Linked DNA regions of Homo sapiens: region 2 is linked to region 1. The links come from fine-mapping of genetic effects on gene expression. A gene starts in region 1. The other region holds a variant in brackets. All regions are shown on one strand. Distances are between the middles of the regions. Region 1 holds the start of LASP1 (LIM and SH3 protein 1). Region 2 overlaps LASP1 (LIM and SH3 protein 1).

Region 1 (4,377 bases):
TCCGAGGAATGACACAACCACATTCCGGGTTTAAAATATCGCAGCTGCCCTTTGACCCAGGCAGCACGCCTCTTCCTTTCTCCTTTATTTTTCCTTTTTTTGGGCAAAACCTAGTCGAGGGGGACGCCCTTGTCTCCCGTCACACTTACCATTTTCCTCCGGCCCAACAGTGACCCTGTCAGGCACGCAGCCAGCAGATACTTGTCCCCATCTTTAGGTTATGAAACTCCATGGCCTTTTATTCTTACTTCAGTGGTTCTTAAAATGTGGTCCCCACACCAGCAGCACCAGAGGCACCTGGAAACTTGGTAGAAATGCAAATTCTCGGGGCCCCCTTACAGAATCAGAAACTAGCAGTGTTTTAACAAGCCCTGCAGGTAATTCTGATGCACGTTCAAATTTGAGAAACACTGTGTTCGTTTATCTCAGTTTGCACTGGGTTATAACTTTACTTTTGTACATTAATAGTCAAGGATGAACACAGCACGTCCATGTCACCATTAATACAGAAAGTTGAAGTTGGAGAAGGGCTGTGTCTATGGGTTTCCCTCGCCTGACCCACCCTCCACCCCCAAAAGGAACGCCAAGTTGAGGCGTTCCCCTGTCTCCCTACCCCCATTGGAAACATCCTGTCCCTCAAACCCGGCACCTCGAACTGTCTGACCCATCTGAGGCTGGCGCCCGTGGCCGCAGAAATCCCTACACCTCTGGCGCGAGTAATGCGGTCGCGCAGCTTTTATACCCACCCCCTCCTCCCGCTGAGCACAAAGTAAAACCGAAAGATTTCTGCTAAGGTTGAAAAATGAGGAAGATACTTTTTCTTTTCTTTTTTTTTTTTTTTTTAGTCAGGACCCAATGTTAAAATGTGAGTCAAGAATGAAAAACAGATGGTTAACAAGGGGAAGGAAAAACCAAGCCATTGAGGGGGCACCCGGATTTGAACCAGGGACCTCTTGATCTGCAGTCAAATGCTCTACCACTGAGCTATACCCCCGCGCCTCTACAGCGCCTGGAGGCGGCTCCTTGGGTGCTAAGCATTGTTGCAGCTGCTACACTGTGAGTAGTGGTGTAACAGAAGGAGAAAGGAATGCTGGAGAAAAAGGGGTCAAGCTGAACGCAGACGGTGCCCGCATCCGGGGAACCCCGGGAAGGTGCACTGCAGGGGCTCGAGAGGGAAGCACTAGCCCGGGCCCGGCAGCGCGCAGGGTCCAAGAGGGAGGGACGGGTTCCGCCCCACAAATGTGGGAAAGGGTGTGGGCCGGAAGAGAGCTAAGAGGGGCAGGGTAGGGGGTCCCCGTTCGGTCCGCAGATTCATGCCGGGTAGAAAGTCCCCGAATGCGGTGAATCAGTTCCAGCGTTCAGGAGGATCCAACCCCACCCTCGACGGGCTTGAGGGGTTAGCCCGCCTCCCGCAGCCCGGGCGCCCCAGATGTGCAGCCTGCTCGCCTCTGCGCCGCCTCCGGCTGGGGAAGGGCCCTGGGCACCGGGCGCAGTCAGCCTGAGAGCGCTGAGGCGCCAGCACCGCGGGCCCCGCCGTCCCCCCAGGAACCCGCCCCCGCGCAGCCCCACGTCGCCCGGAGAGCGCGCCTCGCTGCGCGTGCCCTTGCCCGCGCCCGAGGCGCGTGCCCGCCCCAGTGCAGCCCCTCCTCCCCGCTGTGTTTATTAGGGGAAGGAGGGCGGAGGCGGAGGCCAGTTCCCCAGCTCCAGCCGCCGTCGCTGCTGCCTGTGTAGTTGCAGCCGCGGCCGCCTCCCGCCAGCTCGCCTCGGGGAACAGGACGCGCGTGAGCTCAGGCGTCCCCGCCCCAGCTTTTCTCGGAACCATGAACCCCAACTGCGCCCGGTGCGGCAAGATCGTGTATCCCACGGAGAAGGTGAACTGTCTGGATAAGGTGAGCCCGGGACCGGGAGACGCGTCTTTGCAATCCCCCGCAGTGCTCCGAATCCAGGGAGGAGAGAAGGGCCGGGTCTTTGCCGCCTTATCCCCGCGATCCCAGGAGAATGGAGGGAGGGCGAGCGGGCGGTGTCATGGGGTGTGGGGACACATCCCAGTCTGAAAACCAGGAGATCTGGGGCGAGGCGGGAAGTCCACGCGTAGCGGGCAGCCGCTGCTGGAGAGGGGTGGGCTCTGTGTCCCGGGGTTGGGAGGACGGGAGAGGAGCAGGGAAGTCAGGCGCCGGGGTGTGTTGGGGGAAGGTTAGGGGTGCAGTCCCGCCCCCTACGGCCTGGAGAGTGAGAAGAGACGGCCGCTCCCTCTCCGCTCTGCGCCGAGCGCCAAGTAGGCGGAAGCGCGGGGCGCTGGTGGAGGGGGCGGGGGGGCGGGGCAGAGGCTGGGGGGCCCTGCAAAACCGTCCGCTCCGGCGGGGGTGGCCTGGCTTCCTGGCCTGGCGGGGCGGGGGCTATCAGCCTGCGAGTGTGTGGCATCTGATGCGGGGGGTTTTGGGTAAGGACCCGGGCTCTGCCGCAAGAGCCCCGTTTTTGAACGACCTGCACCCCCTTGGATTCAGTCGTTAAAGGACTCGCAGACCTCCTCCACAGCTTCCCAACCCCCACCTCCAATTAAAAGCCAACTCCCGGTGCTGGGCCGTCCAGCCTGAGCCGGGTGGGGTTGGGTGGCAGAGTAGGGTGGGTGGAGGGTGCTTAGCTGAGATCTCCTGAAATTGTGCTCAGAGCCAGGAGACCGTGTGGAAGAACAAAGAGCTAACTTTTCAAAGCAGGTTTCTCCAATGGAGGGTGGGGTTGGCTGAGTTCTGGGGAAGCCGAGGAAAGGGGGAGGTATTGGGGGGAGGGGAGGGTGGCCTTGTGGAGATTCAGTGTCCCCTGGGGGCCCTGTCTCCCCAATGCTGGACTTGTTCATCTGGTTGCCATTAGACTTTTGGAGGGGGGTTGGAGAGTAGAACTGGGTGTTTCCCGTACAGTTTAGGGTAGGATCCTGTTCTCTTGTAAGCTCCGTAAGATCCTAAGGTAAAACCTGCCCCTCTGCATCCCCTCCCCAGTCTGGAGGGGAGGCCTCTGTGATTTTGTGCCCTTCCTCACCGCGTCTTTCATCCACCACCCAAAGCTGGCTCCAAGTCCAAGTATTCTGTCCTTTCCATCTGAACTGGGAGGGCTGGGAGGACTGGATGGAAGAGAGGTGCAAGGGTGGGAACACTAGATGAAAGAGGGGTATAGAGCCCTGGGGCCAAGTTCATTACTGACCTGGAGCCAGGTTTTGTTCAGGAGAGGATAGTTTATTGGACACCTTATCTCTCCCCTCCCCCTTGGTGTGTGAGCTTCCTCAGTGACCTTTGGCCTCTGAGTCAGCGTGAGGAGGTGGGGTTGGAGGTTCTGAAAGATATTTGAACTTGCTCTTGGGGAGTGTGGGCATATGGGGCCGCTGCTGTGTCACTGTTCCTCCTGGTCCTGGGCTTGACTGGGCAGGAGGAGAGGAGGGGGTATATTGTGGGCACGAGGAAAGTTGTTGATCTCCCCATGACCATGCCAGCCGCTGTTGGGCAGGACTTGAGCTTAGAGCTATCAGATAATGAAGTCTCCCCTTGAGAATGTACCTGTCCTTGCACACTGGGGTTTCGCCCGCCCCTCGTGGCAGAGATTTTGGCCTCTGCATCTTGAGTTCCCTGTGGTCCCCTTCTTCTCCACAGTCATGAATTGGGAAGAGGCAGTGGGCACTTGACCCGTATAAGGAAAAAGCAAAACATGAAGGCAGGATTGCCACTCCAGGAGTTGGGAAACTGGGTCCTTGTTCCAGGTCTGCTCCCACCAGTTTTATGAATGTCTCTAGGCCTCAGTATTCACCATCTGTCAGATGGGTATGATGATGTCATTTCCTTAAAGGTGGGGCAGTGCACTAAAGTCCCTGAGTGCTAAAGAGGGTGCTGTATAGACTATGCCCTCCCTACCTCTCTGGGATGCTCTGTTCAGCTCCACACCACTCCCCTTGGAAAGACCTTCAGTGCCGTGTACCCGAGGGGAGGGGAGCAGGGATGGGCAGGGTGCCCTCCCCAGTTCTCTTACCCTAGCTGGAAGAGGACGTTCAAGTGGGGGTTGCCCAGGGAAGTGGGAGTTGGTGATTCCTTCCTCTTTTTAGAACTCTCCCTATAGGAAGTGGCCCTGGAGAGACCTCGCCCCCTGTACTGAGCAGGAGACCTGAAATATCCAGGTATCAGACCTATTCCTCTCCACCTGCTCCAGGCAGTAAGGATAGGACCAGGAATGGGGAGCCAGTGCCTGGAGGATGCTGGGCTGTGACCAGGGAGGAGGGGAAACCTTCAGTCCCATAGGCAGCTTCAGTCCCATAGTTGCTAACCAACTTCCCAAGGCCTCCCATTTACAGCAAAAGAGTCAAATTAGACTCACCCGTTTCTCTACAATCCCCCATGG
Region 2 (4,377 bases), 31 kb after region 1:
TGGCCTAGGAGGTCCTGCCAGGGAGGGTTTAGGCAGGCAGCTGTCTTCGTGTCTGGAACAGGAAGGGATCAGTGAGCTGCCCATTGTTGCTCTGGGCTGAGGAACTGGGGATAGAGATTGCCGGGGGAGCCTGGCTTTCCGGTGGTCTCAGCACCCACTCCCTGGGCTCCACATCCCTTCCTACCCTCCACCTGGCCACCTCAGCAGGGCGCTCCTTTAAGAGCTTGGCTGGGCCGTGCATAGAGTGGGCTGCAGTGGTGGGTCAGGTGGATTTCAGAAGCACAGGCAGCCCACAGACAGCAGAACCAGCCATGCCCAAAATGGTGGCTTTCAAACTCTGACTTCAGCCTACAGTAAAATATACATTGTACGTCTTGACCCATCTGACAGGCATACATTTATGTAGAGGGAAAACAGAATGGAAGCTTTCATGAATGAGTACTTCCTACTTAGAGGGCGTTCAGATCTTTTTTTTTTTTTTTGAGACAGAGTCTCACTCTGTTGCTCAGGCTGGAGTGCAGTGGTGCTCCGCCTCCAGGGTTCAAGTGATTCTCCTGCCTTAGCCTCCCAAGTGGAGTAGCTGGGATTACAGGTGCACACCACCACCCCCGGCCAATTTTTGTATTTTTGGTAGAGACAGGGTTTCACCATGTTGGCCAGGCTGGTCTTGAACACCTGACCTCAGGTGATGTGCCCGCCTTGGCCTCCCAAAGTGCTAAGATTACAGGTGTGAGCCACCGCACCCGGCCACATTCAGATCTTTTCTAAAGATGCTGGTTGCAGGCCCCTATACACCCTCACATAATACAGCCCCTTTGAGGACTGTATTCCCAACACTTTGGGAGACTGAGGTGGGAGGATTGCTTGAGCCCAGGAGTTTGAGACTAGCCTGGGCAACATAGCAAAACTGTTTCTACAAAAAAAAAAAAAAAAAAAAAAAAATACAAAAACTAGCCAGGCATGATAGCACACGCCTGTGGTCCTAGCTATTCAGGAGGCTGAAGTGGGAGGATCACCTGAGCCCAGAGGTTTGAGGTTATAGTGAGCCGTAATTGCACCACTGCATTCCAGCCTGGGAAACCGAGTGAGACCCTGTTTCCAAAAAAAAAAAGGACCAGGCGCGGTGGCTCATGCCTGTAATCCCAGCACTTTGAGAGGCTGAGGTGGGCGGATCATGAGGTCAAGAGATCGAGACCATCCTGGCCAACATGGTGAAACCCCATCTCTACTAAAAATACAAAAATTAGCTGGGCGTGGTGGCGTGTGCCTGTAATCCCAGCTACTTGGGAGGCTGAGACAGAAGAACCGCTTGAACTCGGGAGGCAGAGGTTGCAGTGAGTCGAGATCGGGCCACTGCACTCCAGCCTGGCGACAGAGCAAGACTCCATCTCAAAAAAAAACCAAAAAGATGCTGGTTGCAGACTTACTGTGAATGGGTTTTGCAACTGGACTGTTGACCTGCAGTTTGAAGTTGGTGGCCTGAGGAAATGGCATGCTTCCCTTTGGCTAGCAGGGGATGCCTAGGGCGGGCACTCTAATCCTCCTTCCCCTCCAACTTCCAGAGGCCTGTCACAGTTGACTCTTTATATGCTAGGGCCTGGCCTCACGCCCTGGAGCTTCCCTTTGGCTCAGACCCTGCAAAGGGTAAGACCCTTAGGTCTGTGTTTCAGAGCTCTCGGCTTGGAAAGTGGGGGAGGGGGAAGATGGTCTTAGATTATGGGGAAAACCCGGAATGGTTCACAGAACTGGAATGTCGGCTCTTCAGCCTCTGCGGCTTTTCATGTAGAGGCTCTAGTCTTTTATCAGTGACACTTGCTCCCAATGTGCAACCCCAGCTCCCTGGCTGTTCACTCATTGCTTCACCCTGTGGGTTTTGGAGGAGGGGAGACAAGCCCAGTCATCCCTGCTTCCCTTTCTGGAAGGCTTCCAGAACACTCCACACTCAGCCTAAGCCACCTCCTCTTCTTCCCTCCCCCAGTTAGA[G/A]GTGTTAATATCCTAGTGACAAAACTCACCACCCTGGCCAAGCCATCCGCATCTCAGGAGATAACCATCTTTTACCCTTCTCGCGGTGCTGCAGTGAGCTAATGGTCCTCTGCAGGAGCTGGGGGAAGGGATCGACCCCGACCTGCTAGCTGCTTTTGCAGCTTTAGCAGAGACCTGTAGGGTGTGAATGCAAAGCCTGGAGACTCTTGGTTTTAATGAAAGCAATTACAGTCTGTCGGATATGGGCCTCCAGACAGCTGTAGCACAGTCACCTGTAGGGTTGACTGAAAATGCAGACTCACAGGCCTTCTCCCCTGGCTGCCAGAATCAGCGTCTCTGGGAGTGGGGCCCAGGAATCAGCATGTTAGACACATTCCCTGGGTTTCTGTGGTGCTCTCTGAAGTTTGAGAGCCACCACCTAAAAGTCTGAAAAAGCTTCACCAACCCCTAAGTCAGAGGGTGCCAGATCAGGCTGTACCTCAGAACCCCAGGGGAGCTTTATTTTTATTTTTATTTTTTTGAGACGGAGCCTTGGTTTATCACCCAGGCTGGAGTGCAGTGGCGCAATCTCGGCTCACTGCAACCTCCGCCTCCCGGGTTCACGCCATTCTGCTGCCTCAGCCTCGTGAGTAGCTGGGACTACAGGCGCCCGCCACCACGCCCGGCTAATAGTTTTTGTATTTTTAGTAGAGATGGGGTTTCGCCGTGTTAGCCAGGATGATCTTGATCTCCTGACCTTGTGATCCACCCGCCTCGGCCTCCCAAAGTGCTGGGATTACAGGCGTGAGACACCGAGCCCAGCCTATTTTTATTTTTGAGACAGGGTTTCGCTCCGTCATCCGGGCTGGAGTGCGGTGGTGTGTTCACGGCTCAGTGCAGCCTGAATCTTCTGGGATCAAGCCATTCTCCCACCTCAGACTCCGAGTAGCTGGGACCACAGGTGTGCACCACCATGCCCAGCTAATTTTTCTTTTTTTTGCAGAGACACTATCTTGCTATGTTGCCCAGGCTGGTCTCAAACTCCTGGATTCAAGTTATCCTCCCGCCTCAGCCTCCTAAAGTGCTGGGATTATAGGGGTGAGCCACCTCACCTGGCCTCCCAGGGGAGCTTTTTTTTTTTTTTTTTTTTTTTAATCAGAGACAGGGTCTCACTATGTTGTCTTAAACTCCTGGACTTAAGTGATCCGCCCACCTCGGCCTCCCAAAGTTCTGGGACTACTACAGGCATGAGCCACTGCGCCTGGGAGCTTTAAACCACACATAAAACCATTGCTAAGTTGTCCCAACCTCCTGAAGTGTTTTGGAAAATAGGGTGTTTAGAGCCACACCTTTTGTTTTGTATCCAAAATAGCATTCCTGTTCCTGTATGTAGCTTGTTGCTTTGCTTCCCAGATTAGCACCAAATGACTCCAGTTACTTTATTTATTTATTTTTAATTTTAGTTTTATTTTATTTTTGAGATAGAGTCTCGCTCTGTCGCCCAGGCTGGAGTGCAGTGGCGTGATCTTGGCTCACTGCAACCTCTGCCTCCCGGGTTGAAGCGATTCTTCTGCCTCAGCCTTCTGAGTAGCTAGGACTATAGGCACATGCCACCACGCCTGGCTAATTTTTGTATTTTTAGTAGACACAGGGTTTTGCCATATTGGCTCGGCTGGTCTCGAACTCCTGACCTCAGGTGATCCACCTGCCTTGGCCTCCCAAGGTGCTGGGATTACAGGTGTGAGCCACTGTGCCCAGCTGACTCCAGTTATTTCTAAAGGTCAGGCCATCTTACAAAAGAATGAGGATATGCTTCCTTGGAGGGATATGCTGCAGACTAGGGCTTTTTACCAGCCAGAGCATTTTAAAAACAAGTGTCTGATCTCCTCTGGGGTGTCTGCTTTGGATAAGTGCAGTCTGTCTTCAGTCTTGCTAAGTGGTGAGACAGTGAGGTAGGAAGAGATGGTAAGGGCCCAGATCCTAGCTTCTGTCATTCTGGGGCCAGGCAGGGCTCTTTGAGCCTCAGTTTCCTCATTTGTAAAAATGGGACAGTAGGCCCTACTTTGACAGGTGGTTGCAAGGAACATGCCAAGTGCTTGGCATGGGATAAATGATATCACTCTTATTATCATCATTATTATTTTTGAGACAAGATTGCCCAGGCTGGAGTACAGTGGCACGATCATAGGTCACTGCAGCCTCGAACTCTTGGGCACAAGTGGTCCTCTCCCGTCAACCTCCTGAGTAGCTGGTACTACAGGCATATAGCACCATGCCCAGCTAATTGTTATTTTTTTTGTAGAGAGAGGGTCTTGCTATGCTGCCCAGGCTGGAGTGTAGTCACGTGATCACAGCTCACTGCAGCCTTGAACTCCTGGGTTTAAGTGAACCCTGGCCTAAGACTCCCAGGTTGCT

Evidence for each region. PIP is the estimated chance that this variant, and not a neighbour inherited with it, causes the effect. A credible set is the group of variants that fine-mapping cannot tell apart.
Region 2: its variant is the best candidate, but not a certain one, in a credible set for the expression of LASP1 in monocytes (TOPMed, PIP 0.74).

Annotation. Positions count from the first base shown.
Region 1 is chr17:38,868,370-38,872,746 of GRCh38, forward strand. It overlaps LASP1 (LIM and SH3 protein 1), which reads left to right and starts at 1,689. Exons shown (of 7, transcript NM_006148.4): 1 at 1,689-1,889. The coding sequence starts at 1,821. It overlaps TRC-GCA4-1 (tRNA-Cys (anticodon GCA) 4-1), which reads right to left and starts at 994; the gene lies at 923-994. RefSeq lists enhancers at 1-543, 119-298, 1,789-1,938, 2,951-3,552 and silencers at 1,419-1,728, 2,249-2,348.
Region 2 is chr17:38,899,281-38,903,657 of GRCh38, forward strand. The region is part of intron 4 of LASP1 (LIM and SH3 protein 1); the gene reads left to right. Among named protein-coding and RNA genes, the nearest start is that of MIR6779, 14 kb to the right of the region's middle. RefSeq lists enhancers at 1-453, 2,084-2,709. The variant G/A (reference allele first, on the strand shown) is at 1,984.